Linked DNA regions of Homo sapiens. The protein of the gene in region 6 purifies or fractionates together with the protein of the main gene of each other region. This does not show direct contact. Each region holds a gene or a part of one and is shown on either strand. Other genes may lie near its edges. The genes, in order: CEP72, TUBGCP3, PRKAR2A, OFD1, CHLSN, PCNT and TUBGCP2.

What was found.
Region 1: the proteins of PCNT (region 6) and CEP72 purify together in Homo sapiens (affinity purification with mass spectrometry; one large-scale study listed by BioGRID and IntAct). This does not show direct contact.
Region 2: the proteins of PCNT (region 6) and TUBGCP3 purify together in Homo sapiens (affinity purification with western blotting, with the first as the bait; one study listed by BioGRID). This does not show direct contact.
Region 3: the proteins of PCNT (region 6) and PRKAR2A purify together in Homo sapiens (affinity purification with mass spectrometry; one large-scale study listed by BioGRID and IntAct). This does not show direct contact.
Region 4: the proteins of PCNT (region 6) and OFD1 purify together in Homo sapiens (affinity purification with mass spectrometry; one large-scale study listed by BioGRID and IntAct). This does not show direct contact.
Region 5: the proteins of PCNT (region 6) and CHLSN purify together in Homo sapiens (affinity purification with mass spectrometry; one large-scale study listed by BioGRID and IntAct). This does not show direct contact.
Region 7: the proteins of PCNT (region 6) and TUBGCP2 purify together in Homo sapiens (affinity purification with western blotting, with the first as the bait; one study listed by BioGRID). This does not show direct contact.

The regions. Positions count from the first base shown.
Region 1 is NC_000005.10:618,383-622,733, reverse strand, and holds part of CEP72 (centrosomal protein of 72 kDa), read right to left. Parts: intron 3,745-4,351; coding exon 3,617-3,744; intron 2,666-3,616; coding exon 2,473-2,665; intron 1-2,472. UniProt on the Homo sapiens protein: Involved in the recruitment of key centrosomal proteins to the centrosome.
Region 2 is NC_000013.11:112,553,371-112,557,721, reverse strand, and holds part of TUBGCP3 (gamma-tubulin complex component 3), read left to right. Parts: intron 1-1,497; coding exon 1,498-1,670; intron 1,671-2,716; coding exon 2,717-2,835; intron 2,836-3,539; coding exon 3,540-3,665; intron 3,666-4,351. UniProt on the Homo sapiens protein: Component of the gamma-tubulin ring complex (gTuRC) which mediates microtubule nucleation.
Region 3 is NC_000003.12:48,837,024-48,841,374, forward strand, and holds part of PRKAR2A (cAMP-dependent protein kinase type II-alpha regulatory subunit), read right to left. Parts: intron 1-4,351. UniProt on the Homo sapiens protein: Regulatory subunit of the cAMP-dependent protein kinases involved in cAMP signaling in cells. Type II regulatory chains mediate membrane association by binding to anchoring proteins, including the MAP2 kinase.
Region 4 is NC_000023.11:13,755,210-13,759,560, reverse strand, and holds part of OFD1 (centriole and centriolar satellite protein OFD1), read right to left. Parts: coding exon 4,319-4,351; intron 2,984-4,318; coding exon 2,794-2,983; intron 1,902-2,793; coding exon 1,771-1,901; intron 1,225-1,770; coding exon 1,113-1,224; intron 1-1,112. UniProt on the Homo sapiens protein: Component of the centrioles controlling mother and daughter centrioles length. Recruits to the centriole IFT88 and centriole distal appendage-specific proteins including CEP164. Involved in the biogenesis of the cilium, a centriole-associated function.
Region 5 is NC_000007.14:996,211-999,932, reverse strand, and holds the end of CHLSN (protein cholesin), read left to right. Parts: intron 1-2,128; coding exon 2,129-2,308; 3' UTR 2,309-2,499; coding exon of another isoform or gene 2,500-2,517; 3' UTR 2,518-2,927; downstream 2,928-3,722. UniProt on the Homo sapiens protein: Hormone secreted from the intestine in response to cholesterol, where it acts to inhibit cholesterol synthesis in the liver and VLDL secretion,leading to a reduction in circulating cholesterol levels. Acts through binding to its receptor, GPR146.
Region 6 is NC_000021.9:46,330,586-46,334,936, forward strand, and holds part of PCNT (pericentrin), read left to right. Parts: intron 1-3,811; coding exon 3,812-4,183; intron 4,184-4,351. UniProt on the Homo sapiens protein: Integral component of the filamentous matrix of the centrosome involved in the initial establishment of organized microtubule arrays in both mitosis and meiosis. Plays a role, together with DISC1, in the microtubule network formation.
Region 7 is NC_000010.11:133,298,570-133,302,920, forward strand, and holds part of TUBGCP2 (gamma-tubulin complex component 2), read right to left. Parts: coding exon 4,223-4,351; intron 1,545-4,222; coding exon 1,416-1,544; intron 1,035-1,415; coding exon 858-1,034; intron 1-857. UniProt on the Homo sapiens protein: Component of the gamma-tubulin ring complex (gTuRC) which mediates microtubule nucleation.

The DNA.
Region 1 (4,351 bases), on a different chromosome or scaffold from region 6:
CCCATCCCAGGGGGAAGAGTGTCAGGCACAGCAGCCAGGCTCTCAGGTGGCCAGCACCACGCATGCACGCCGCATGCTCCCAAGGAGGCGCTCCTCGCTGCCAAGAGCTGCAGCACAGAGCTCTATCCACACTGCTCAGGCTCTGGAAGCCCAGCCGCAGGGCCTGTCCAGGGCCCAGCACTTGCCACATGAGTGGGTGAGCCAGGGTCTTCCCTGTCAGTGATGCTGGGAGCTAGGTCTCACTTTGGCCACACAGACGCCCTGAGTGCCTCCCAGCCCTTGCAGAGCAGCAAATGCCACCCCAGTTGCTGCCCTCCCATCCGATGCTGCCACTGCCAACTGCCAGCCCCCAGTGCCCAGGGGAGCTGAGCTCCTGCAAGAGCAAAGTCCACCAGGACCCAGGGATACTGTCAGCTCCTCAAGTCACTTTTAGAAGGTCAGAGAAAAATTGTTTTGATCGTTAGTTACTGAAAAATGGTCAAACTGTGGCAGACTGGGGCATTCTTCCAAGAGGACTCCTTTAAACAGATTTCAATCCATACCACTAACCTACACTGTCACCAAACAGAGGGTGTGTGTGCTGCATGCTGACAGCTCTTTCCAGCATCTCCAGAAACTTCTCCAAGTAGCAAAGCAGTGCAGTTTAAAATGTTAGAATTTGGCCAGGCTCAGTGGCCCACGCCTGTATTCCCAGCACTTTGGGAGGCCAGAGTGGGCAGATGACTTGAGGCCAGGAGTTCGAAACCAGCCTGGCCAACATGGCAAAACCCTATCTCTACTAAAAAGACACAAATTAGCAGGGCACAGTGGCACGCACCTGTAATCTCAGCTACTTGGGAGGCTGCGGCAGGAGTATTGCTTGAACCCGGGAGGCGGAGGTTGCAGTGAGCTAAGATCACGCCACTGCACTCCAGCCTGGGCGATGAAGCGAGACTATGTCTCAAAAATAAAATAAAATGTGAGAATTCCATATACAAACACATGTGTGATCACATCACCATCAAGATACCGCAGGCCAGTCCTCCCTGTGATGAGGTGACACGGCCCCGCATGGCTCCACGATGGCCCCAGACAGCCTTCCCGGTCTACTCGCTGAGGCGCTTAGGTGCTCCTCCACCTGTTTTCCCACCTCTGGTGTGCAGCTTTGCTGACGTCACACGAACTTCATGGGGCTGACAGGGTGAGGGCTGCCGGGTGTTCATCTGGTGGGTGGCAAAACCCCAGCTGGCCCTCAGTCCCGACGCCCACAACGGGCAGTACCCAGGGGCCAGGCACATCACCCACCAACGTGCTTTAGCTGCTGTTTACTTGAAATTGACATACAAATCTCAGTTCTCTAAGAGAACCTGAATGCTCCCCACAGCCGTGGAAAACAGCCTGTTCAGGGCACTCGCAGTGGGGGAAAGTGCTCTGTCCTCTGTGATTCTGTTGGTCTTTTGTTCTAACAAGATAGTTGGGATTCTGTGATTCTTTTGTTTTTGATAAGGTCCTAGGTTCAGAAGGAGGGGCAGCTTTCGAACAGCGGTGCATGGTAGGTCTGACCCTAACAACAGAAGCAACCAGGGAACGTTTATAGGCCCCTGGCCATGCCGGGCAGTCTGGGAGCTTACAGATATTAACTCAGGTCTCCCCACCACGACATGTCAACACAGCATTCTTATCCCCCCACTTCACACAGGAGGACTGAGGTAAGAGACCCTGCACCCTCTTCTTCCCCATGGACTCTGGTCAGTGTGCCCCTGGGCTGAGGCCCCAGCTTTCTCTCCTGGATCTGTGACTCGGGGTAGGGTCAGCAGAGACACCACCAGGTGCTCACAGCAACAGCAACAGCAACAATGCCTCCGGGGAGGCAGGAGGCAGATGGGAAGGTGACCTGCGGCTGCCCCAACCCAGGGACCCTCCCTACTGGGCATCGCTGTGGGGGCCCTGGAAGTTCTGCCTACAAGACTGTCATGGAAAGCCTTTTCTTTCAGGAGCATGATCCAAAGGTCACTGCACATCCCCTCCCAACCCTGTCCCAGTGGTGGGGTGTGGGGGACAATGAGCTGCTTGTCCTGTGTGCTTCCAAGTGGGGCAAAACCAGGCAGCATCCTGCTGTTTAGCTGCACCTGAGATGATACCTGGGGGCTATGCGAGGAAACAGGACAGGAGATGTTCAGGAACGTGCCCAAGTCCAACAGCCATGACGCGGAGAGCCAGAACAGGACGTAGCAGCCTGGTCCGGGGCTGTGCTCCCACGGCCCCAGCCCTGCGCCCTCCCAGGGTGCTCAACTTCCAGCCCTGTCCTGTGCAGACACAGGGCCTCTCGAGCTGTGTGTCTGCAGGAACTCAAGCCACCAGCGTAGAAAACCAACTCCCCGTTCCAGAAGGAATCAAGCATGTGACGTTGAGCACACAGACACCCACTACGACTCCCCGACTCCCATACCCCACGGGGACAAAAGCATGAGCGTGGCCCTGCCTGATGCCTACCCAGCTGCTGGAGCTTGGGGAGCAGGTGCACAACAAAAAGGCGGTAGTCAGGCTCAACCTTCACCACGGGGTTCAGCCGGAAGTCCACATCCACGAGCTCGGTTAAGGCGTGGAGCCGAAACACTTCTGCCAACGAGGAGATGCAGTTGTAGTAGAGATTGAGACTCTCCAATGCAGTCAGGTACTGAATGCCCTGTCAACAGAAAACACAGTGAATTCATTCACACTTTAAACAAGAAATACACAGTGAAATAAGCCAGCAACACACACTGACCAACCAACTGTATAAACTTATTTGCAATAACTCCATGTCATTACCAGGAAAAGTAGAAAAATGAAACGTTCTCATCTGTGAAGTTCTCTGGGCCCCACGCGGTGAGACGGTCGTTTATGGAACCCACATGTGACGCAACTAAGCACAGCTAATATCTACCGAGGCCTCAGCGTGCAGCAAGCTGAGTGATGTGCACGCACAATTTCATTTAATCCACACGCCGCCCTACAGGGTGAGAACCATCAGCCCCCCCTTCACAGATGAGAAAGCTGAGGCCTGGGAACGGGGAAAGATGAGGCAGCACTGGGTGTAGCCTGGGCTAGGTCCGCATCTGACTTGGAGCAGACTCCCGAGCTGGTGTCAGACGTGGCCTCCATAATGCTCAGGCACCAGGCTCAGGGCAGGCGCATCCCACGGTTCTGTCCGGGCCAATCAGGCCATGCAGACGCAGCCTCCATAATGCTCAGGCATCGGGCTCAGGGCAGGCGCATCCCACGGTTCTGTCAGGGCCAATCAGGCCATGGTAGTTGTGCACAGCTCCCCTCACCACCACCTAGGCATCTCTCTCCAGGGTGACCCTGCCAGGAGCCCAGGAGGCAGCCCCAGGCCCACTGCACTGCCACTCAGTAAGTCTCTGGGGTCTCATTTCATTTCCTTTAAAGATATAATCATCGTCATCAGAGGGCGACAACACAACGTAACGTGATGTGTATGAAATGTAGCCCACGGTAAACACAAAAATACGCAACACAAAGTGTACCGTATACAGATGTAAGCAGAGGGTTACAAAACAGACTCCGTTTCTGCTGTGAATGGACTTTCCACTGATGTTGATAGCAATAAATTTTAAGAAAGAGACCTAAAACTTACCTCCAGACTAACCAAGGAGTTGCGCGAGAGATCCAAAGATTTCAGACCTGTTAAACTCATCAGAGAATGTCCCAGGTGGGTGATCTTCTCTTGGTAAGTTCCAGGAATAGACAATGACTGAAGCTCAGCTAAGAATAGAAAAATTGTAAGATTTTAATCTTTTATTTTGAAAACAATTATAATAACGGTCAAGTTCTTGGTGTTGGATATGGAGTAGAAACTGACACAGATTCTTGGTTTAATTCAACTTTACTCAGGCTCCTGAATCTTCTCCTCGGCCATCTGTGCCCTTCCTTGTAAAGTCCAGTTTAGTGCGGCCAAAACCCCCACCCTCAGTATCTGCTCAGGTTCCTCATCCCCAGATCCCATAGGTGGTGTCTGCTCACCCTGGCCTCTCTTTCGCAATAATCCTGTTCAGTTGGTTTAGCCCAAATCCCCTTACTCCTCATGTGTCCTCTCAGTCATTTTCCATCCACTGCCCCCACCCTGACCCTAGGCTATAAACTCCCCCCGGCCCCTGCTGTACTTGGAGTTGAGCTCCATCTCTCTCCCCCACTGCAAAATCCCAGCGCAGTGGCCCCAGGCCCACCTCAATGGTTCTGAATAAAGCCTTCCTCACTGTGCCTGACAAGGGTCATTCAAAACATTTCTTCCTCTAACAGTATATGTAAAAAGATTGAAAGACAAACTTTAACACATGTGTCCTATTGTGGAATAAATCCCTTTATTTTCCCT
Region 2 (4,351 bases), on a different chromosome or scaffold from region 6:
GATGATGAAATGCAGGAATGCACAACGAAGGTTTTATGTATGTGGTCCAAGCATGTTTTCAAGAAATACAGGATTTACAGCTGAGAATCAAGCAGGCGCCATTGTCATTCATGGATGGAACTTTGTTTTTCTTTGTTTTTAATTACACATTCTTCCTATATGTAGATAAACGGGTGGCTTTGCTTTTTGCCATAGTTGGTTCCCGGAAATCGCATTAAAGTGGATTATCATAAAGTAGATATTTTTCCAGAAAAACAGTGACCAAGGATTTAGCATCAAATAAATGGTGTTTTCCATGTGAGTGTAATAGAATTATAAATCATTTTGTGATTTATTCAATTATGTTCAAGATACTCGAAAACAGAATGTGTGTTCTATACATATGGATTACCAATGGGGTCTAGTGTTCTATGAAGAAAACGCAAAGCATTTAAAAACAGAACTTGACACATTTAATCTAGAATTTAAGTTCCAGCTAAAAGAATCAATTGACATTCTCATTTATACCTCAGAATTTGAATTATTATCCTATTAAAAATCTGTATAGAGAACTTTGAACTGAAAGTCTTTTAGAATCATCCTCTTAAATTTAGAACTATGCCCAGAGACATAGTTTTAGTGAATGTTGTTGACTTCTCTCCTGATGAAAATGGAATAAAATAAGAACTGTTTCAGTTCTTTCCTGTTCTCCTTACTTCACGAGTGGATTATGGATAAACCCCCCCAGTATTGCACCAGTACTAAATCCAAGCTCTGGCACCTGGAAACTGTAGAGCAGCTGAGGTTCTCATTTTTGTGTTTTGTAGTCCCAGGAAGTGATATTTTTGTTGCACCTGTCAAAACTGACGCTATTAGAAATCAGCTATGAGGTTCTTACATTTTTCAAAAAACAACTTTGACATAGTCTCAAAATTGCTGACAAGCCATCTTGACCTTGAATATGCATTTGCCTTAGATTTTATACGTTTGTATACTTTAGCAGTTAATTGAAAATTGCAGTTTCTTTTCATAGTGAGCACTCTGAAGGCTGAAGACAGGTGAGGCCAGGCGCCTGGGGCAGTGTCACAGTGACTCGATTCCTCTGCTCAGTACATGGGGAGTGAACGAGAGTTGTGGATTTTGAAGTTAAAATAAGTAGAGAATTTCAAAGTGGTTATGGGGTGGGTAAGGTATGTTATATGTTTATAAAGAAAAGCCAAATAGATTTTGATATTAATGGTAAGAAATATATATTGTAAGGTAGCAGTAAGATGATTTTTCCACTGCTGTGTTGGGTCCGAATGCTAGGCCAAGGGTCGCAAGGAGGCTTGACCAAGTTCAAGGGACTTGGGACTGTCTGTTATTGATATATTCGGTTAGGGTAAAGTCATGGTATCAGCTATACCAGATTTATAAATTTATGTAATTCACGATAGTAATACAAGAGAAATTTCTAGGGACACTTTTGTCTCTTCAGCGAATAGCCTATTAGAAGATAATACATGTTTCTTTTTTTAGACAGTCTAATCAAGCTCCAGGAGTAGGAGATTGCCTTCGACAGCAGTTGGGGTCACGACTCGCATGGACTTTAACTGCAAATCAGCCTTCTTCACAAGCCACTACCTCAAAAGGTGTCCCCAGTGCTGTGTCTCGCAACATGACAAGGTCCAGGAGAGAAGGGGATACGGGTGGTGAGTAAGGATCTATGTTAATACAGCTTTTCTGTGAACACTTGGAATTCAGCCTCTCCTTATTTTAAAGTACAGCCCAGGAGCCCCACCTCAAACCTTTTAGTGGTTTCTTCTTGTTCTTATGATGAAGTCCAGAGTCCCTGGTGGTCTGCGGCGCCTTGGGGAGTTTGGCTTTTCACCCCAGGCCACCTGGGCTTTTTCCTCCCAGCACAGTCTGCTTTTTGGCTGCTTTTCCATGTGGCCTCCTCCCTCCACATCTCTCGTCTTTGCTGTTCCTCATCACATTCTCCCTGTCTGTTTTCATCCTGCCGTTTCCCTGGGAAAGTCTTTAAGGCTGGGTTAGGCCCCCAGTAAAAGTCACCTTCTTCTACCAAAGTCTTAAGGCCACAGAGGGGCTATGTCTTTTCATTTATGGTGCCAGTGCTCAGCACAGTGCCTGGCACGTCGAAGAGAGTCATTGAGGAATTACTGAATGGTGAGATGAATACCTCATGGAGGGTTTTAAAGCCCTGCTAGATTCCAAAAGGAAGCTTGAGTTTCTTTATTGAGAACACTACAGTTAGCAGCATTTGAAACATGAGTGTCCTGAAAACAGAGGATTGGGTTTCCCTGTTGGCTCGTAATCTGCTGATTACGAAATGGCTCTGGATGTTACCTGTACCTGTCCTTGCGTAGAATGCAAAGGTGAGGAGCATCTGAGAGCTGGAGGACATCCTGGCACAGTATTAGCCCCCGCAGTAGTCTCCACCATCTGCCCCACTCCGCCTGTCCCTGTGTGTGGCTCCCGCGTCCAGCCTCTGTCCACAGCTGCAGATTCATGTCGTGTTTGACAGCTGTGCGTTCATGGCACAGCAGGCCAACCTCTAGACTGAGACTCGCCTTGTTTCTTTCTAATCTCATACTCTTTTTCATCTTGAGCTTATTTATTGAGTTAGTAAATTTCATCGGGGTGGCAAATATCTAATCTGAAGCTAATTGCACCATAATATCTATTGTCTGTTAAAATATTGTCTAGTAATTACTGTCTTTAAAAAATGATTTTGCAGGTACTATGGAAATTACAGAAGCAGCTCTGGTAAGGGACATTTTGTACGTCTTTCAGGGCATAGATGGCAAAAACATCAAAATGAACAACACTGAAAATTGTTACAAAGTAGAAGGAAAGGTACAGTAACATAAAATCTAAGTTAAAATATTCAGAAAGAAAAAACATGTCATGAAGTCCAGATAGTGGCTGTTGATTGATAAGGTGGTACTGGGGTTTTGCGAATCGGTTGTGAGGTGAAATTGCACTGTGGAATTCTGGTTTCTATTTCTGTCCATTGTGGCTCGTTCAGTTTTGTTATGGGGACCCTTTGTGATTAATGTGTGCCTCCTTTCCTCACGTCTACTGATGGGGCTGCCCCATAGCTGATTTCTGCATCCTGCTGTGTGATGGCTGAGGCACCCAGGGGACAGAGGTCCCTTGGCACCTTCGGCATTGATGCAGGATTCCAGGTCAGGGGTCTTCACCCACTTTTGTTTCCTTTTTCCATAATCTGCCTTTACCATGCCCATTTCTTGTGGTGTGGGTCACACTGTGGCTCTTAGCCCTTTCACAGCGTGGCTGAGATCACAGACCTTCTCTGCCACACCGCAGGCCAACTGCAGGGTGGTGTGAAATGAGCTCACCATGCCCTTTGAGGTGCTTTCCATCATGCTGTCACTTAATGTGCTTTCCTTCCCTTTAGTGATGGGATCTTAGTTTTAACTTTTATGTCTTGAAGCCTAAGGATTATAGTATTAAAAGTAGAAGTGCTTGAGAAAAATACTAATTAAAGCTCTAGTATTGCTTTTTAATGTTTAACATTTGATGTATTTACTTTTTAGGCAAATCTAAGTAGGTCTTTGAGAGACACAGCAGTCAGGCTTTCTGAGTTGGGATGGTTGCATAATAAAATCAGAAGATACACGGACCAGAGGAGCCTGGACCGCTCATTCGGACTCGTCGGGCAGGTGCGTTCATGGTTCCTAGGATGCTGGGATGCTGCGCACTTTGGGAAACGCTTACTCTAGTTGAAATCTTACTGTGAAATAGCTCCTTCTAAGGCTCTTTCCAAGTAAAGCAGCTTTGAGAGTCAACTTTCAGGGTCCACTCAAGACAGTAGAAACCACAGTAGGTGCTGATGAGGACACTGAATACAGCAGGTTGGCTCAGGAACTGCTGGAGGACTGTAAAATACAGAGAAAATGGTGAGACAGAGCTGGCCATGGGGAGCTGGCATTGCCCGATTCCAAACGCTCGAAGGGGGCCCTGCCCAGCTGCTGCTGCCTCCTCCAGAAGGTTGAGGAGGGGCCCTGCTGGGACGGGGCCTGCCAACAGGGGACACTCCCAGCTGCGTGATTCCCCAGGCAGCACGGTGAGGCAGGATTTGGGAACACTGCCGAAGCTGGAGATGGGAATCCTGGCTATGGCTGTCTGGACAGCCCTGGGTGGGCACTGCCGATGGCACAGTGCATGGTTGGGAGGGAGCTGCTGCTGCTTCTCCTCCTGTTGGAGCCTGACAGGGGGCAGCTAATAGGAGCCGTGGCATCTCCACTGTCCAGCCCTTCTTTGTGGCTAAGCAGCATGTGGTCTTGTCCATAGGTTGATTATTGGGCAGTAATTACTGCCAATGAAATCTCCAAAAATTATTGAATCA
Region 3 (4,351 bases), on a different chromosome or scaffold from region 6:
AGGCTAAGGTGAAAGGATCGCTTGAGCCTGCAAGGGTTAGGCTGCAGTGAGCTATGATTGCACCACTATACTCCAGCCAGGGTGACAGAGACCCTGTCTCAAAAATAATAATAATAAAAATAAAAATTAGCCAGGTATGAAAAAAAAAATTAGCCACTTATGGTGGCGCATGAGCCCAGGAGCCCAGCTATGGTGGCATGAGCCCAGGATTTCAAGGCTGTAATGACCTATGATTCTGCTAATACACTCCAACCAGGGCAACAGAGTGACACCCTATCTTAAAAAATAAGAAGAAATGCAACTGACAAATACATGGAAAGATGTCCACTCAACATCATTAGTCATTAGAGAAATGCAAATCAAAACCACAATGAAGTACTACTTCACACCCACTAGTTTGGCTATAATAATTTTAGAAGACAGATACGTTCAGACAAGGATGTAGAGGAATTAGAATCCTCAAAACACTGCTGGTTGGAATGTAAAATGGTTCAGCCACTTTGGAAAACAGACTGGCAATTCCTCAAAAGGTTAAACAGAGCTACTATATGGCCCAGCAATTCTACTCCTATGAGAAATGAAAACAGCTCCACACAGAACTTGTACACACAAATATTCGTAGCAGCATTATTCATAATAGTCAAAGAGTGGGAACAATCTATATGTCCATCAACATATGAATGGATAAATGGTATATCCAGAAATGAATGGTATTTCCAGACAACAGAATAGTATTTAGCAATAAAAAGAAATGAAGTTTATTTAGAACAAGTGGAAAAAGGAAAAAAAAAAAAAAAGTACTGATACATGCTTACAACATGGATGAACCTTGAGTACATTATGCTAAGTGCCAGCGGCAAAAGACCACATATTGGCTGGGCACGGTGGCTAACGCCTGGAATCCCAGCACTTTGGGAGGCTGAGGCAGGCGGATCACAAGGTCAGGAGATCGAGACCATCCTGGCTAACACAGGGAAACCCCATCTCCACTAAAAATACAAAAAATTAGCCGGGTGTGGTGGCGGGCGCCTGTAGTCCCAGCTACTCGGGAGGCTGAGGCAGGAGAATGGCGTGAACCCAGGAGGCGGAGCTTGCAGTGAGCTGAGATCACGCCACTGCACTCCAGCCTGGGCGACAGAGCAAGACTCCGCTCAAAAAAAAACAACAACAACACATATTATATGATTCCATTTATATGAAATATGCAGGATAGGCAAATGGTAGAGACAAAAGTAGATTAGAGGATGCCTAGGGATGAGGGGAATGAGGGTGTTGGTGAGGTGATGACTAAAGTGTATGGTGACCGGGCGCAGTGGCTCACACCTGTAATCCCAGCACTTTGGGAGGCCGTGGTGGACAGATCACCTGAGGTTGGGAGTTCGAGACCAGCCTGGCCATCATGGTGAAACCCCATCTCTACTAAAAATACAAAAATTAGCTGGGCATGGTGGCACATGCCGGTAATCCCAGCTACTTAGGAGACTGAGGCACAAGAATTGCTTGAACCCAGGAGGGAGAGATTGTAGTGAGCTGAGATCTCACCACTGCACTCCAGCCTGAGCAACAGAGAGAGACTCCATCTTTAAAAAAAAAAAAGAAAAAAGAAAAGAAAAACAAAACAGTATATGGGACTTTTTTTGGAGTGAGGAAAAATGTTCTAAAAATTGTTATGGCGCCAGGCGCGATGGCTCATGCCTGTAATCTCAGCACTTTGGGAGGCCGAGGCAGGCGGATCACGAGGTCAGGAGATCGAGACCATCCCGGCTAACACGGTGAAACCCTGTCTCTACTAAAAAAAAAAATACAAAAAATTAGCTAGGCATGGTGGTGGGCGCCTGTAGTCCCAGCTACTCGGGAGGCTGAGGCAGAAGAATGGCACGAACCTGGGAGGTGGAGCTTGCAGTCAGCCGAGATCGCGCCACTGCACTCCAGCCTGGGCGACAGAGCAAGACTCCGTCTCAAAAAAAAAAATTGTTATGGTTGGTCAGGTGCAGTGGCTCATGCCTGTAATCCCAACACTTTGGGAGGCCGAGGCAGACAGATCACCTGAGGTCAGGAGTTCAAGACCAGCCTGGCCAACATGATGAAACCCCATCTCTACTAAAAACACAAACATTAGCCGGGCGTGGTGACACGCGCCTGTAATCCTGGCTACTCGGGAGGCTGGGGCAGGAGAATTGCTTCAACCCGGGAGGCAGAGGTTGCAGTGAGCCAAGATCACATCATTGCATTCCAGCCTGGACAACAAGAGCAAAATTCCGTCTAAAAAAAAAAAAAAAATTATTATGGTGACGGCTGCACACAGATATGAAAAACCAATTATACATTCTAAATAGTTGACTTGTATGTGAAGCATATCTCTATAAAGCTGTTACCTAAAAAAAAAAAAAAAAAATGCTGAGAGACCGGCAAGTATAAATGCTTTATGGTAATTACAGAAGTGAAACAATTCTGAATGTCGATTTATTGTTTGTATGCAGCTACAGTAATTTATTAATAAGTTTATACTCTTCAGGCATCTCTCAACATTAAATACGCATTATAATACTTTATACTTTGAAGTTATGTCCTGTTTGATATTAAAGCTGTTATTAAAATAACAGCTAGTAAGTTTTTTGACTCTTTCCAATAGGATACAATTTTATAAACTGAATTGGTGGTTAGTCACAAGGACCTCACTAAGCAAAGCTTCCTTGCTATATACAGTTATTACATATGATACTTCTTGTTCTTTTTTTTATTGGCTCTGGAGTTGAAACATATCCTATTTCTAATTTAAGTAGTGTAGACTTATTCTAATGTCATTGGGTATACAATTCATTTTTTCTTCCTTTTTAAATTGTGGTAAGATGTACATAAAATGTGCCACTTCACCATTTTAAGTGTACAATTCAGTGTCATTAAGTACATACATTGTGCAACCATCACCATTATCCAACTTCAGAACTTTTTCATTATCCCAAACTGAAACTCTGTACCTATTAAACAATAACACCCTATTACACCTTCCCCCAAGCCCTCGGTTAGCTCTCTTCTACTTTCTGTCCCTATGAATTTAGCTACTCTGGTTACCTTCTGTAAGTGGAATCATACATTATTTGTCCTTTTGTATCTGGCTCATTTCATTTAGGATAATATTTTCAATGCTGTAACATGAATAAGAATTTCATTCCTTCTTAAGGATGGTCAGGTATGGTGGCTCATGCCTGTAATCCCATCACTTTGGGAAGTCGAGGCGGGACGGGTGGATCACCTGAGGTTGGGAGTTTGAGACCAGCCTGGCTAACATGGTGAAACCCCGTCTCTACTAAAAATACAAAAACTAGCCAGGCATGGTGGCACACGCCTGTAATCCCAGCTACTCGGGAGGCTGAGGCAAGTGAACTGCTTGAACCCAGGAGGTGGAGGTTGCAGTGAGCAGGATCGTGCCACTGCACTCCAGCCTGGGAGACAGAGCAACACTCGGTCTTATGTATATATATACCATATTTTGTTTATCCATTCATTTATGGATGTATACCTGGATACCTGGTTTGTTTTCACCTTTTTTTTTTTTTTTTTTTTTTTTTTTGAGACGGAGTCTCACTCTCTCGCCCAGGCTGGAGTGCAGTGGCACAATCTCGGCTCACTGCAAGCTCTGCCTCCTGGGTTCACGCCATTCTCCTGCCTCAGCCTCCCGAGTAGCTGGGACTACAGGCACCCGCCACCACGCCCGGCTTATATTTTGTATTTTTAGTAGAGACGGAATTTCACTGTGTTAGCCAGGATGGTCTCAATCTCCTGACCTCGTGATCCGCCCACCTCGGCCTCCCAAAGTGCTGGGATTACAGGCATGAGCCACAGGGCCTGGCCCACCTTTTTTTTTTTTTTTTTTTTTGAGACAGTTTCGCTCTTGTTGCCCAGGCTGGAGTGCAATGGCGTGATCTCCGCTCACTGAAACCTCCACCTCCTGGGTTCAAAAGATTCTCCTGCCTCAGCCTCCCGAGTAGCTGGGATTACAGGCGCACACCACCACACCCAGCTAATTTTTTTTTTTTAATTTAGTAGAGATGGGGTTTTACCATATTAGTCAGGCTGGTCTCAAACTCCTGACCTCAGGTGATCCGCCCGCCTCGGCCCCCCAGTGCTGGGATTACAGGCACGTGCCATGTTTTCACCTTTTGACTACTGTAAATAATGCTGCAATGAGCACTGGAGTATAACTATCTGTTTAACTCCCTGCTTAAAATTATTTTGGGTAGGCCGGGAACGGTGGCTCACACCTGTAATCCCAGCACTTTGGGAGGCTGAGGCAGGCAGATCACAAGGTCAGGAGTTTGAGACCAGCCTGGTCAATATGGTGAAACACCAT
Region 4 (4,351 bases), on a different chromosome or scaffold from region 6:
TACAGATGGGGGGACTAAAGCTTACTGAGGCTGGGTCACACGGTTAGCAAGTCTAAGAGCTACTGGGCTTTCCTAATGCAAAGCCAGTGCACCTGCCCCTCTCTCCTGCAATGCCTCCCCGTGATGCTACAAGAAAGAAGCTTGCCCTCGGCAACACATGCATGCGAAAGAGTTCTATCCTCATTCAACTATTTTTTATTGATAGGAGACTGCTATGATTTCAGCTGTGAGAAGTTTCACAAACAGAACTGAAAGAAAATGAGGAACAGAAAAAAGCAGAAACGAGTAGAGATAAAAATAAAACAAGTGCTGGTAGAAGAGAGCAAGGAGCTGATGAGGAAACAATGCAGGTGGGAACAAGGAAGGCTCAGACCCAGTTGAACTGGTAACACATACGTACTTTCTTTGAACTTGAAAGCAACTGAAGAATAAAGTATCTGAACTTTAATATCCTTCTTACGAAGTAGGAAGGGGCAGAGATGCATCCACAGTGAAGACACAATAATAAAATGATACCAATAACCATTTCCTGAGTGTCTTTTATGTCCCAGGCACTGGACTGAAACCCATTTCATCTTTTTCATCATGGCTCAGTAGGTATTATTATCCCCATTACAAATGAGGAGACTGAGGCCCAAGGAAGTTAAAGTAACATGCCCAAGGTCAAACAACTTCAAAACGGGTCCAAAAGAAGAACAGTTCTGATTCTGAAGGCAATATTCTTTTTGCTAAACCACCCTGCTTGTCCTGTATATTTATATATCTATCAAGGAATCCGTAAAACTACTGAATTGGTGTTAACATTGGGGTAACAAATAAAAAAGGAAATCCTATAATGAATATGGGGACTTCTATGTTACCACCACGCCTTTCCTATTGGGGCATGAGACTCTCCCAAGCCATGAGGCACCTATGAAGCAAAATACTTTTGCTGATGATCCAGATGGTATTACCAAAATGGATAGGGAGTTTTACTTCTAAGATGACACATATTTCTATGGCTTTTCCCCTAAAACAATAATTAATATTCAATAAATTATGATCATTACATTTTCACAGACACCAGAAGCTTTATACATACAAAAATATTTATGGGTTAAAACGTCTCTAACCTGTCTGAGTTTGCTTCAGTTGCAATTTTAAATCGGCAACCTGAGTAGTTAAACTCTTTACAGAAGCTTTGTAACCTAGAATCTGGGCCTTCAGCTGTGCAGAATGCTCAATCTGAAAAGATTCAGAATAGGAAAAGAAATCAATGTAAAACAAATCACAGCTTGCTTCAAAAGGAAAAGTTCTCTTATCATGTTTGTACTCTTTTTGTTCTGCCAATTCCAAGAAGCTTTATGACAGTAAACAACAGGGTCCCTATTAAAAAAAAACACAAGCAGAACACACAAACAAGTTCTTCACCATCTTTTTCAGTCATATCAAAGAACTCTAGGGCATGCAGGCAGAAATCAGAAGACAGTGAATGTTTGTAATACTTATCAGGGTGAGAATCGAGAGATAACAGTGGGCACCATCAGGCACTCAGAAAATTTTATGTTTAGGTGAGTTTGCTTTCTTCTCCATTTTATTACTATTACGAATATAAAGTCACGTTATCACTGCAGAATTTTCTCAGATGAGAAAGGATACCTTTAGCATATTTGGGGGAGTAATGTTTGATGTTAAAATAAATCTGATTTACACTAGTGTGACTTGTGCCAAGTTTACGTAACTATGAAGTGTACTGGTATCACACTAGAACTGAAGAAGAGCAATACTCACTTCGTCTTGCAGTTGTTTGTGCAGAGCTTGCCTGCAGCTTTCGAACTCCTCATGCTCAACCACTATAGCCTTTTCGGCTTTCCGTAGTTCTTTCTGAAAGACTGCAAGTTCAGGAGCCGGCTGAGCTAGGCCTAAGAAGGTAAAAAAAAAAAAAAAATCCTAGTCATTACCAACCTTAAGTTTTCTTATTTAACTTAACAAAAACAGTTAAAGGGGTTTTAAAGTGTTCTTTGCTTTGTACTGACTCAATAAATATGATAATAATTCTATTAAATGAGCTCAGAGCAATCCTGACTCTCAAATTTCACAACAAAAGAATTTAGTGCATGTTAATGCAAACTTTATTACCCTTGGAGTCCTACTCCAAGTAAAAGAACTCTTTCAAATTCTCAAATTAACCTGAAAGCCTGTTTCTCTCCTCTACTGTGCACAGAAGGAGCTCTCTATCTGGTCTACCTGTTGATGACAGCCCTGGGATCCAATATGATCTGGGCATCTGACAGCAGCAGTTGGGATCCAGGCAGAAGGCAGATGGCTCTCACGGTCAAGGTCATCTAAGAACCCTTTAATAAAGGTTGACTTATTCAGGGTATGCACAAAGGATGGTGGAGTTCCCTGGGTGGGCTAGTAACAGGGCCATACTGTTAGCGCTCCTTGGGCCTGGGGAATCAGAGGAGGGAGAAATTCTCAGCACTAGAGACAGGGTGGTGGTGCAGAGCACTTGGAAGAGGTAATCGCAGGCACTATGGCCTCACTTGGCCATGAGGCACAGTGGCCAGCCTAGGGCCACTGTATGTAGAGGCTGGTGTCCCCACTGGCCAAACCCAATCAGCAGTCAGAGGGCAAGGGAAGCTTTGATACCACCTATAGGCAGGTTTGCAGAGTTTAATCCAAGAATCTTAATTTTATAAATCTTCCCAATGTAAGCCCCCTACCTTATACAAGTACAAAGCATAGTTTTATAATACTGACCTAATGCGAATTACTAAAACACGCAAGTCAGAAGAAAAGAAAAATACATACGGTTTAGGAGACGCAGGTTTTCATTTCTACTCTCTTCCAGTTGTTGTTTAAGTAATTTATTTTGTGCCAGAAGCTCCAGTTTCTCTTCTTTTAGTAGTGAATAATCACTCATCTCTTTAACCTTTTCATTCAGCATATGGTTTTGTTTTGTTATTGCCAAAGACTGGGCTTTGACAGACTCTAATTCAAGCTAAAATTCAAAAAGGAAAATTTACATTTGAATAATGACTTTACAGTACTGCAAAAGTAAAAGCTGGCAGGCTCCTTTAAGCATGGTGTCACAATTTAATTAAGGTCACTAGACAGAAGTCTGATTCTCTACAATAAGACTCTAACTACAATAACGAAAATTATCTTCCGCCCTACAGTTGGGGCAGAACTTTTATAGGCCGCATCCCATGAAGCAAGTCCTTCTAAGATTATCATCCCATTTTCCAGAGGCAACCAAGAACCCAACAATAATCACACATCATAGCAATATATATTTTTTAAATATGAAAGGTAAGATAAAAATGGCTGAGCATGGTGGCTCACGCCCGTAATCGCAGCACTTTGGGAGGCTGAGGCAAGAGGATTGCTTGAGCTCAGGAGTTCGAGACCACCCTGGGCAACATGGTGAAACCCCATCTCTACTAAAAATACAACAATTAGCTGGGTGTGGTGGCACATGGCTGAAATCCCAGCTACTTGGGAGCTGAGACATGAGAATCACTTGAACCCGGGAGGTGGAGGTTGGTTGCAGTGAGCCAAGATCACACCACTGCACTCCAGCCTGGGCGAAAGAACAAGACTCTGTCTCAAAAAAAAAAAAAAAAAAAAAAGGGAAAGAAAGGAAAAAAGATTCTGTAAAATGTTGTGAAGTGCTTCCCTTTTCTTAGTATATCTCATATTTGAGTAAAAAGCCTACAAAGTTCTCACATAAGTCACAGTTGCTAAAATAAATTTCATATACAAAATATGTTGTAAGTACCTAAAGTTCCAGCTTCATCCTTCAGACAGCAAGCACACGAATGAACAGAAAAGTAAAGAAGCAATGATATGTGAAAAATGTACCTCATTTTGTTTTAATCTGTAAGATAACAATGTAATGACAGGAATTTTGTTTACCTGCTGCTGATGGAAGGAGATAACAGGCTGATGTAGAAACTAATAGTAATGGCCACCTGCTATGAACTAGGCACATAAGTTAGCTTACTGAATTCCCTCAACAACCCTATAATGTGGAAAACATCCTAGTTTACAGCTCAGGAACCTGCAGTCACAGAACTTACCTAGCGACACACAAGCAGTTAGAGACACAGACAGGATGTGGGCAGGACTCCAGGACCCAAAGCTCTATCTACACTTTCCTATGTGACACTGACTGAAATTAAGAACTATTGAATTAACTTCAGCTAACACCTTCTTAGCCATATAAATGGCAGTCCAAACATCTCAACAGGATGACTTAGGATAAATTATGTATGACTAAAATTTCATATATTGCTTAAAATCTATTTCAAAAACCAACATGCTTAACAATTACCTCAAGTTCTTTCACACGATTTACAGATTGATT
Region 5 (3,722 bases), on a different chromosome or scaffold from region 6:
AGGATGTGAGATAGAGTTTCACAGGATGAAACGAGACAGAATTCTGAACTAAACCCGGCTGCTGGGCGGCGGGCTGGAGCTGCCCATGTCCTGTGAGGCTGGAGGAGCCCACGGTTCTGCTGAGCTGCATCCGGTGGGCAGTGCCTCCTGCCTCGCTGGCTCTCCTGCGCCCACGTTACTAGAGGCCAGGCTTTGCGTGCGCGCTGGGGGCAGGGGGCGGTTTTCTCCTGCCGTGCCTGTGTTTGCAGACTCTCAGAGCGGGGCAGGCCCACCAGCCCCACTCACAGCCCTGGGACATTCCAGGCATAGCCTGCAGCCACTTGCTTTCATTATTTTGTTGTTTTTGTTTTTTTGTGGGCGTTTTTTGAGACAGGGCCCCGCCCAGGCTGGAGTGCAGTGACACGACCACAGTTCACTGCAGCCTCGACCTCCTGGGCTCAAGCCACTCTCCCTCCTCAGAGTTAGAGGACATACACATTGCAAGCCCTATTGCAAGCCGATTGTAAGCCCTATTGCAAGCTCCGGTAATCGCGACACTGGGGCAGGCACAAGGGTGGAAGTAGAATTGACTGGAACAGCCTGGGAAGCCTGGAAACCCTCACGCCCGGCGCAGCTGATTCCAGCATGCGGGCCAAGCCTGTTCCATGTGGAGGAAACCTCTTCTTAACAGAGCCAGGGACAACTGGGTTTCCACGTTTTGTTTTGTTTTAACCAAAGTTTACGTGGTTTTATTTATATGTTACTATTACCAAAAGTAAACTTTATACAAAACTTTTTATACAGAAAAATAATCCTTGGTTAGGCAAATCCTTGGTTAGCCATTTATATGTGTGTATACACACACACACACACGCAAAGTTATCTTACACTATTGTAATTAAACATATTTACAAACACACAAATGTGCATTTTACTTATACATTTTTATTTCATATGTAACCGTACATATTTACGAACATGCCGATACTTAATGCACGCAGCCCCCAGCTTCAAACCATATGCAAAAATTAACTCAAAATGGATCAGAGACTTAAATTTAAAAGCTAAAACCAAAACTCTTAGATGAAAGCCTAAGAGTCCATTTCGTGCCCTTGGGTGAGGCAACAGTTTCTTAAATGTGACTCTAGAAGCACAAGCGACAAAGGAAAAAGTCGAGAAAGTGCCTTCATCAGGATCTAAGACTGTGTAGCCGGGCGTGGTGGCTCACGCCTGTAATCCCAGCACTTTGGGAGTCTGAGGCGGGTGGATCACTTGAGGTCAAGAGTTCGAGACCAGCCTGGCCAACATGGCAAAAACCCCGTCTCTACTAAAAATACAAAAATTAGCTAGGTGTGGTAATGCTTGCCTATAATCCCAGCTACTTGGGAGGCTGAGGCAGGAGAATTACTTGAACCTGGGAGGTGGAGATCGTGCCACTGCACTGCAGCCTGGACAACAGAGCAAGACCGGCTCAAAAAAAAAAAAAAAAAAAAAAAGAATCTAAGACTTTGCACTGCATACAGAACTAGCTGGAAAGTGAAATGGTTGCTACAGAATGGGAGACGTTTGCAAGTCCCACATGGAATTAGAACTCTGCTAACTCAATAATAAAAAGAGCCCAGTGTTGAAAGCCGCTGCCACAGGGACCTGAGGAAACGTGCCTGCAGAGCAGATTGTCAGGTGACTGGTGAGCCTGTGCAGAGGTGCCCCCACCACCAGCAGACAAGGGTCAGGCCACCAAGAGATGCCACCTGGCCACTGCCGCCCTGAGCAGAAAGGCGAGCGTGCCAAGTGCCGGCGCGTACTTGGCTTTTTGTTCTGAATGCACCTTTCATCACCGCCTACCCCTGTTTAATTTGTGTCGTATTTTCTCGTTTTTCTGAGGATTTTTACGATGTTTGTGAAATGTTCTCCCCACATGGCTTCTGTTTTACCCAGGTTAATTGAGTGTTTTGTCTGCCTCTAAACAGGCATTTCTTCTTCCAGTGTCTGGGGCAGGGTCTGTGGCCAGGCCGCCCACACCCTCGGGCCGCAGTGGGAGGACGGAAGCCTGAGGCCCGGGTGTCCTTGGCTGCAGCGTCTTGTCTCCTGCTGTTCAGCGGCCCCTCCCTGCCCCGCCCCTGACCAACTCGATCTCTTTCCCGTCCAGGTTCCCGATGAGCACTTCTCCACCCTGCTGGCCTACCTGGAGGGGCTGCAGGGCCGGGCCCGAGAGCTGACGGTGCAGAAGGCGGAAGCCCTGATGCGGGAGCTGGATGAGGAGGGCTCTGATCCCCCCCTGCCGGGGAGGGCCCAGCGCATCCGACAGGTGCTGCAGCTGCTCTCCTAGTGGGTTCAGCGCGGGGCGGGGCCGCTGCCCAGTGCAGGGCTGCCTCAGACCACACAGGGTGCAGCTCCTCCGGCGGTGGGGGCCGGGTTCACCAGCAGGGCAGCGGCTGAGCAAGGGCTTTCAGCTCCTCCGGTGGTGGGGGCCGGGATCACCAGCACCAGAGCCTCGCAAGGGCCCCTTCCCTCCTCCAGACCCTCCTTGGCCGGTGACGGCTGTGACAGTGATGGCAGGTTCAGTGCCTTCAGCGCAGAGCGTGGATGCTCTGGAATCACCCGGACCCCTGGCCTTGGAGGGACCCTCCAGCCCCAGGAATCTGCTTTGGAGGGAAATGTCTATTTTTCTACCGGGAATATTTTAGAGATTGGGGCATGCTGGCTCCTCCCGCCAGCTGCAAACCTGCACCTTCCGCCTGATTCCCGATCCCCCTGCGTGGGCCGCATTCCTGGTCCCCTGCCTGCGTCCATCGAGGGGCCTGGCTGTGGCCTGTTTTCCTTTGACCCCACACAGCGTCATTGCGGGTCATGGGGAGCCCCTGGTGGGAGCTTGTGGAGTCGGATCACGTACCTGTGCAGAAACCGCCTCTGTGGCTGCATTTGAAATAAAACCCGACCCAGCAGCAGCCGTGGGTCCTGCTCTGTGCGGTGCGTCCCCTGCCTGTGGACTGCGGAATTCGTGTCCCCCATGCCAGCGCACGCCAGGCTGAGACCCCGCCCTTGGTGGCCACCCCAGGATGGCATTGGGGGCGCTCTGTGTGTGGCGTTCCTGGCAGTGGGTGCTGGCTGATCGCTTGCGTTCAGGCCGGCCGTTTCCCAGCGCTGGCAGTGACTGACCCTGCCAGGAAACACACTTAGGCCGCACAGAATCAAGCCACACACTTCCTGTTCCCAGCAGCACGTGGTCCCTGCCCCCAAGTGATGTGAGGTGCCGCGGGGCACCGGGAAGGCCGTGGTGACCGCAGAGCTCTGGGCAGCTGCCGGGGAGGGCCGGGTGGCCATGGCGAGGAGGTCCGTGCCCCACTGTGAGGCCAAGTCTGTTCCAGGATGGGCCCCGGGGAGGGCTGAGGCCAGTGGCTCCGGTCTGGGCCTCCACAGAGCAGACACCCAGGTGCTGCTGCCCCGGGGCCGCCTCCTGCCCAGCCCAGGTTGGGGGTTTGTGCTGCCGTCTCAGTGCTCCCCCAACTGACGGTGGAGCAGAAAAGTAGCTGCAGCCGCCACCTGGCAGCCTTGGGACGCTGGCTCAGGCCCTGAGTGCCCCCTTGGGTGCCCCGCCCCCCAACAGAGCTCCTGAGGCTGAGGTCAGGCTGCCTGCCTTGGCTGCCACCAACGCACAGAGCTGCATGCAAGCCGGGAGGCGGGAGCACGGCCGGCCTCACCCTGTGAGAGCAGAGTCACAGGCTCCGGGCTGTTGTTGTGGG
Region 6 (4,351 bases):
TTTTCTGATTATATCATTGTACATCATCAGTTCAGTCTAAAAAGGAGTTTTTTTCATATGTATTATAAAATATTTCATGATATTTGAGTTTAGTATGCCTTTAATCCAGTTGTAGATGTTAAAATAGGAGTAATTTTGTGTTCAAAATAATGATCTTCTGAAAAGTGAAATTCTAGGAAAGAGTCCACTGTTTAAAGCTAGCAGCTGGTGGCCGTGTGGCCGAATAATGTCCCAGGCCAGGGCACTCCCCTCTCAGATGGTTGGTCATGCTGCGTCGGAGATCAGGAATCCTCAAGGAACCTTTATGTTATAGTTGTACCAGTGCTTTAAACATAATGAAAGGTGCATTTGTTTTATTTTACCCATCTATAAATTGTGAGAGGTTTGGCTATGGAGAGTCTAGTGAGCTTATTGAACAGCATAAGAAGATAAGTGTGTGTGTTTGTGTGTGTGTGAGAGTGTGTGTATGTGTGTGTGAGGGGGAGGGAGAAGTTATTGTGCTTTCCAACATATAATAAATTGCTTACTTTGATCACTAACTGTTAGGTAAATACTGATGATTTCTAGCATAAGTCTTTTTTCTTTTTTTTGGAGACAGGTCCTCCCTCTGGCGCCCAGGCTGGAGTGCAGTGGCCCAATCAGCTTACTTCAGCCTTGACCTCCCTGACTCAGGTGATCCTCCCACCTCGGCCTCCCAAAGTGCTGGGATTACAGGCATAAGCCGCTGTGCCCAGCTGATATAAGACATATTTTTAACCAACTTTAAGATCTTAGTTTTTTTTCAGGATGGTTATAAGCGAAGGTAGAATTGCAGAAAGACTTTGTGGTAAATATTCAGGATTCGGCTCTGTTGCCTTACAATTTGTTAAGTGCATGATGGAAAAATAGTTGAAACAATGCAACAGCTGTCTCAGTTCTGAAAGTTAACTCAGAAATGGCAGAAAGCAAGGTCAGGCATGGTGGCTCCGAGCACTTTGGGAGGCCAACGTGGGAGGATGGTTGAAACTCTGTCTCTATGAAAAATATAAAAATTAGCTGGGCATGACAGTGCACACGTGTAGTCCCAGTTACTCAGGAGGCTGAGTTGGGAGGATCACCTGCGCCCAGGAGTTTGAGGCTACAGTGAGCTATGGTGGCACCACTGCACGCCAGCCTGGGCGGCAGAGCAAGGCCTTGTCTCAAAAAAAAAAAAATCATAAAAATAAAGCAATGGTAGAAAGCAGAATTTGACCTTTCAGTTACAGATGAGGAACAAAGTGAGGAGAGGCCATTTTTTGGTAAAAGAACCATCTGGCGGGACGCATTGGCTCATGCCTGTAATCCCAGCACTTTGGGAGGCCAAGGCAGGAAGATCACCTGAGGTCAGGAGTTCGAGACCAGCCTGGCCAACGTGGTGAAACCCCATCTCTACTAAAAATACAAAAATTAGCCGGGTCTCATGGCAGGCGCCTGTAATCCCAGGTACTCGGGAGGCTGAGGCAGGAGAATCACTTGAACCCGGGAGGCAGAGGTTGCACTGAGCCGAGATCGCGCCATTGCACTCCAGCCTGGAGGACAAGAGCGAGACTTTATCTCCAAAAAAAAGAGAACCATCCAAAAATTGCTCAGAGGTCAAGAATTTCAGAAGAAAATACAAAAACTTTGGCTGAAGAAGATTTAACTAGTGCTATAGAAGGCTTAAGAAGTGTGGTTCTAGCACTTTTCCAACTCATATTTGTATCAAATACCAGGAAAAATAGTTATCACCATTTATCATCTAGATTTCTGGGCCGTTTTACTGTTTTGTCATTTTAAGTTGTTTTACACGTAATTTACAGAAGTAAGAATAAAGCAATAATTTAAAACAACTTTATAAGAAATTTGATCCAACCTCTTTGTATCAAGTAAGTTTTGACACACAAACATTAGAAGTGTCCTCTTAAGGAAGTGGATGGTCCAGGTTCCTTTGAAGTGTGATCATTCATGTGAGCGGGCAGCTGATTGAGACTACTGTGTCCCCTTTTCGTCCCTCACTTCCTCTTGATTCTGAGAAGATTGATCTAGGGTATTGTCAAATGAAGACTTGTCTGAGATTTTATTTTCACGTCAGTTTTGCCATCATCATTGGCCATGGGTGCTCTCTCTCTGCATTCATCTTGTGACTCATCTAATGATCCCGAAAAGTCGACACTGTCATGTTTCTTTGCTATTTTGGGAAGAAATTGAAATGTTCTTAGTGAATCATCTTGTTAAAGCAAGCTAATCTGGGCACTGTGGCTCATGCCTGTATTGCCAGCATTTTGGGATGCTGAGGTGGGAGGATTGCTTGAGCCCAGGATTTTGAGGCCAGCTTTGGAACATAATGAACAGAGACCCTGTCTCTACAAAAAAATAAAAAATAAGCTGGGCACAGTGGCGCATGCCAGTAGTTCCAGCTACTCAGGTGGCTGAGGCAGGAGGATCACTTGAGCCCAGGAGGTTAAGGTTGCAGTGAGCTGGGATTGCACCACTGCACGCCAGCCTGGGTGACAGAGCAAGACCTTGTCTCAAAAAATTAATTAAATTTCTTTTTTAAAGTAGAATTCATGGCCGGGCGCAGTGACTCACACCTGTAATCCCAGCACTTTGGGAGGCCGAGTTGGGCAGATCACAAGGTCAAGAGATTGAGACCATCCTGGTCAACATGGTGAAACCCCGATTCTACTAAAAATACAAAAATTAGCTGGGCATGGTGGCACGCGCCTGTAGTCCCAGCTACTCAGGAGGCTGAGGCAGGAGAATGGCGTGAACCCGGGAGGCAGAGCTTACAGTGAGCTGAGATTGTGCCACTGCACTCCAGCCTGGGTGACAGAGTGAGACTTCGTCTCAAAAAAGACAAAAAAGAAAAAAAAAATTAGCCGGGCGTGGTGGCATGCGCCTGTAGTCCCAGCTACTCGGGAGGCTGAGGCAGGAGAATTGTTTGAACCCGGAGGCGGAGGTTGCAGTGAGCCGAGGTCATGCCACCAGCCTGGGCGACGGAGTGAAACTTTGTCTCAAAAAAAAAAAAAAATTACAGGCTGGGCACGGTTACTCACACCTGTAATCCCAGCACTTGGGGAGGCCGAGGCGGGTGGATCACCTGAGGTCAGGAGTTCAAGACCAGTCTGGCCAACATGGTGAAACCCCCGGGAGGTTGAGACAGGAGAATCACTTGAACCCAGGAGGTGGAGGTTTCAGTGAGCCGAGTTCGTGCAACTGCATTGCAGCCTGGCAACAGAGCAAGACTCCGTCTCAAAAAAAAAAAAAAAAGTAGAATTCATTAAGAAGAGGGGCAGGAACATCATTAGGGAAATTACTTGCATTATAAAAATGTTTAGAGCTGGCCAGGTGTGGTGGCTCATGCCTGTAATCCCAGCACTTTGGGAGGCCAAGGCGGGCGGATCACGAGGTCAGGAGATCAAGACCATCTTGGCTAACATGGTGAAACCCTGTCTCTACTAAAAATACAAAAATTAGCTGGGCGTGGTGGCGGGCACCCATAGTCCCAGCTACTAGGGAGGCTGAGGCAGGGGAATGGCGTGAACCCAGGAGGCGGAGATTGCAGTGAGCTGAGATTGTGCCACTGCACTCCAGCCTGGGCGACAGAGCAAGACTCCGTCTCAAAAAAAAAAAAAAAAATGTTTAGAGCTTGGGAATTGTTAATGCGGAAGGTGCACGTTCTGAACAGGTGGAAGTGAGCTCTACTTGTTAAATGAAGTCAGCACAGGCCTGCAGATAGAGGAGCTGGGAAGGGCCTGAGGCTGCAGCCCTAGACCTTGCTTTAAATGCTTCTTTCTGGTCCTCCCCTTCTTAGCCGGAGGACTGTGATGGAGAGAAGAGAGAGGACTTGGAACAGCTGCAGCAGAAGCAAGTCAATGACCATCCTCCAGAGCAGTGTGGGATGTTCACAGTCAGTGACCACCCACCAGAACAGCATGGGATGTTCACAGTCGGTGACCACCCACCAGAACAGCGTGGGATGTTCACAGTCAGTGACCACCCACCAGAACAGCATGGGATGTTCACAGTCAGTGACCACCCACCAGAACAGCGTGGGATGTTCACAATCAGTGACCACCAACCGGAACAGCGTGGGATGTTCACAGTCAGTGACCACACACCAGAACAGCGTGGGATCTTCACAATCAGTGACCACCCAGCAGAACAGCGTGGGATGTTCACAAAGGTATTCTTTAAGTTCTCTGTTAAGGTGTATTCTTTGTCAAAAGATTTCTTTATGTTGTAGAAATCCAAACCAGTGAGAGGACCTTCCATCTCTGCAGGGCCTCTCTTTAGAAGTGGAAACTGGAAGCATAGAGAGCTGGAGGCAGAGGCTCACCCTGTAGGCCCCACG
Region 7 (4,351 bases), on a different chromosome or scaffold from region 6:
ACAGGATGGCTCCTGACATGTGGTCAGAGAGCCTGCCCTCCTGCGCCAGTGGCCGCCAGAGGCTGATGGGGTCGGCCTGGGCTGGCCCAGCTTTCGGAAGCACTGACTCCCACTCAGGGCTGGTCAGGGACACGGGCAGATGCAAACTGTCTCTGCACGTGGCAGTAAGACCCAGTCTTCTGCCACGGCTGAGGGAGACGTGGACAGAGGCCTAGCACCATGTCCAGCACAGAACGTGCCCAGCAAGAACCGGCTGGGTCCTTGGGAGCCGCTGCACTCAACACGCACCCAGGAGGCTAGGACGCCTCAGGGACACAGCTCCAAAGGGAGTTTAAAGGTCACAAAGGCAGGAACGTGGCAGCTCTAATGAGAGAGACTGGGAGATGACTTACGTCAAAAGACCAGGGTAGGGCATAAAATCAAAACCAAGAGCAAGTAGCAAATACAGAAGGAATAATAAAAATTACTGTATTTTCGAGAATCTTGAAAATATAATGATCTGAAAGCATTCCCTCAAAATTGTCAAAAATTGGAGGAGGGAAATGGGGAGTCAGGATTGGGTAGGCTCAGAGTCACGTGGCCACCTGGCAGCACAACTCCCACGTGGGTCAGAACCTTGCTGCTATTGATTCTTGTGGTCCAGAATTCTTGGTTAAAAAAAAAACTAAACATATAGAGCTAGGTCATGATCAAGCATTAAGCCTTGGCCTCTCTAAGGGATTCATTTTCAATAAATGACAGAGAGACATGTCCTTCCAGCAGGGGCCCGGCACAGCACTGAGTGTGGGTGCCTGTGGACGCCACGGACACAGGACCTGCTGCAGCATGGAGCCTGTGGACAGCCATGGACGCAGTACCTGCTGCAGCGTGGAGCCTGTGGCCACGCTGCCAAGCTGCTTCCTCAGTTCCTCAAGCTCCTGCATGGAGATCTTGGAGGCCGCGGCAGGGACGTTGATGCTGGTGGTACTGCTGCCCACAGCAGCGGCTGCAAGCTCAGCTCTTTCTTTTGCATTCTGTTGTAAGTACTGCAGAGTCTGAAAACATGTAAAACTGTGTGTTCACACTGGGCCAGCACCTCTTTGGCCATAGGGGGAGAGTAGGGACGACACCACCAGGACGGCTCCCCAACCCTGACAGGCACCCATTAATAGCAAAGCGACGCGTGCGACAGGCAGGAACTGAGCGTGACACATGCGGGAAGCTCAAAGTGCCCCAGAGGCTGCTTCTCATGTTTACACCCAACATGGGTTATCTTTCATTCTGATTCACCAAAAATTTCCTACATGGCCTAGAAGCGTTACTGGTGTGAGCGAGGAAGAGCTGACAGGAAGATGGCGTGGAGTGAGCAGGAGACGCGACCCCACTCCCAACATGGGCCGTACGGGCGCAGTGTGGCACGTGGCATGGGCACCTACCTCTTTGTCTTCCGTGAGCTTTGACAACAGGTACACCAGCGGGTCAAGGTTCCTTGTATTTTTAGATTTCAGTTCATCATATTTCTTTAGAAAGTCTTCTGGAGTACGAGAAAACTCTGCAATTTTAACCTCAAAAGCACAAACATGAGTGATTTAATGACGGTAATTAATAAAGCACTGTAAAAAAAAACCTTTACGAAAATTGAACACAATAAGCCAATGGAATTAAATTGGGTAGGTTAAATAATTATCCCTCTGAAATAAACTAACAAAACTCATCTCCATATTGTGTTAAACTTATCCATGTTTTGAGCTAGGCAGTGGCTCATGACTGTAATCCCAGCACTTTGGGAGGCCGAGGCTGGTAGACTGCTTGAGTCCAGGAGTTCAAGACCAGCCTGGCCAAAATAACAAAACCCCATTTCTACAAAAAGATTCAAAAATTAGCGAGGCGTGGTGGCACTTGCCTGTGGTCACTACTTGGGAAGCTGAGATGGGAGGATCACATCAGCCTGGGAGGTTGAGACTGCAGTAAGACAAGATCGTGCCACATGCATTCCAGCCTGGGTGACAGAGTAAGACTCTGTCTCAAAACAAAACAAAACAAACCTTATCCGTATTTCCCATTATGGTTCCTTTCCTTTTGTGCTTCTTCGTATTATTTTAATTTTTTCTAGAGACAGGATTTCACCATGTTGCCCAGACTGCTCTCAAACTCCCAGGCTCAAGCCATCCACCTGCCTCGTCCCAAAGTGCTGGCGTTACAGGTGTGAGCCCCTGCGCCCGCCCTTTTATGCTTCTTCAGGTTTGTACTGGAGAGTAGCGACTTACACTTCCCCCCAGTAGTTTATGCGTTCATTGTATACATTTCACTGTATTCCCTTTTATGCTGCTTCAGGTTTGTACTGGAGAGTAGCAACTTGCATTTCCCCCCAGTAGTTTATGCGTTCATTGTATGCATCTCACTGTGTTCCCTTTTATGCTTCTTCAGGTTTGTACTGGAGAGTAGCGACTTACCTTTTCCCCCCAGTAGTTTATGCGTTCATTGTCTGCATCTCACTGTATTCCCCGCAGTAGTTTATGCGTTCATTGTATACACCTCACTATGTTCCCTCTGGAATTTGTTATTATGTGCAACCCTAGGGGTTATGCTTTTTCTTTTGGACGGAGTTTCGCTCTTGTTGCCCAGGCTGGAGTGCAATGGCGTGATCTAGGCTCACCGCAACCTCCACCTCCCTGGTTCAAGTAATTCTCCTGCCTCAGCCTCCTGAGTAGCTGCATTACTGGCACGCACCACCACGCCCTAATTTTTGTATTTTTAGTAGCGATGGGGTTTCTCCATGTTGGCCAGGCTGGTCTCGAACTCCCAACCTTAGGTGATCCACCCGCCTCGGCCTCCCAAAGGGCTGGGATTACAGGTGTGAGCGACCGTGCCCAGCAGGGGTTATGTTTTACTCAGTGATTTACAATGCTTCCTTCAGAATGAACTAAACATGGGTGTCCCCAAGTCTCTATTCCACTCGGCTAATTTGCCTAATTATCCTTGTGCCATTGTTAACCTGTTTAAATAACTGAAGCTTCATAATGTATTTTTTAAAATAGACTTCAAATTCAAAATCATTTTTACTGAAAATCTATACTTCTGAATTACATATTATCTGAATAAAGAAATAATACCTTAAAGGCATTTCAACATGGTTAATACCAGTCCCTCCCTTTTTTTTTTTTTTTTTTTTTTTTTTTTTTGAGACAGAGTCTCACTCTGACGCCCAGGCTGGAATGCAGTGGCACGATATCTCGGCTCACTGCAAGCTCCACCTCCCGGGTTCACGCCACTCTCCTGCCTCAGCCCCCCGAGTAGCTGGGATTACAGGTGCCCGCCACCACACCCAGCTAATTTTTTGTATTTTTAGTAGAGACGGGGTTTCACCGTGTTAGCCAGGGTGGTCTTGATCTCCTGACCTTGTGATCCACCTGCCTCAGCCTCCCAAAGTGCTGGGATTACAGGTGTGAGCCACCGCGCCTGGCCCAGTCCCTCCCTTTTTATCCACAGGAATGCACATGTCAGGACTCTCCCACCTCATGGCTGCAGGGGACAGAGTGGGGAAGAGGGAGGGTTCTAGGCCCAGCTTTCTCCATAGGCCTCCATTTACTCATCTGCACAGTGGGGTGAATCACAGGAGCTGCTGGGGGGAGTCAGGAGAATCAGAGCTGAACACACACACAGACCAAGTGCTGTCTGCCATCGTTGCCGGTACCATTGAGGCCACCCAGGAACGGGCACTCACCCTGCATCTTGCACGGTACACAGCCCTGCACCAGGGGCAGTGCTCACCCTGCACCATCCTGACCCCGGGGTGGCGCTCACCCTGCACCCCGCACAGCCCTGCACCAGAGGTGGCGCTCACCCTGCACCCTGCACCAGAGGTGGCGCTCACCCTGCACCCTGCACCAGAGGTGGCGCTCACCCTGCCCCCTGCACCAGAGGTGGCGCTCACCCTGCACCCTGACCCAGGGGCGGTGCTCATCATGCACCCTGACCCAGGGACGACGCTCATCCTGCACATGGACTGAGGGGTGGGTTCACCCTGCACCATCCTGATCCAGGAACAGTGTTCATCCTGCACCCTGACCCAGGGGTGGGCTCACCCTGCACCCTCACCCAGGAATGGTGCTCACCCTGTACCACCCTGACCCAGGAACGGCGCTCACCCTGCACCCTGACCCAGGGGTGGGCTCACCCTGCACCACCCTGACCCAGGAACAGTGCTCACCCTGCACAGCGCTACACCAAGGGCAGTGCTCACCTTGGCACTGTGAGCAGAGACAGTGGTAGTGACGTACGGGGTCCTGTTCTTTTGAAGCAGGTCAATGTAGACCTCAGCCCCATCTCCTCCGTGGACACGCAGCAGGCTAAGCAGTTCATTGACGTCATG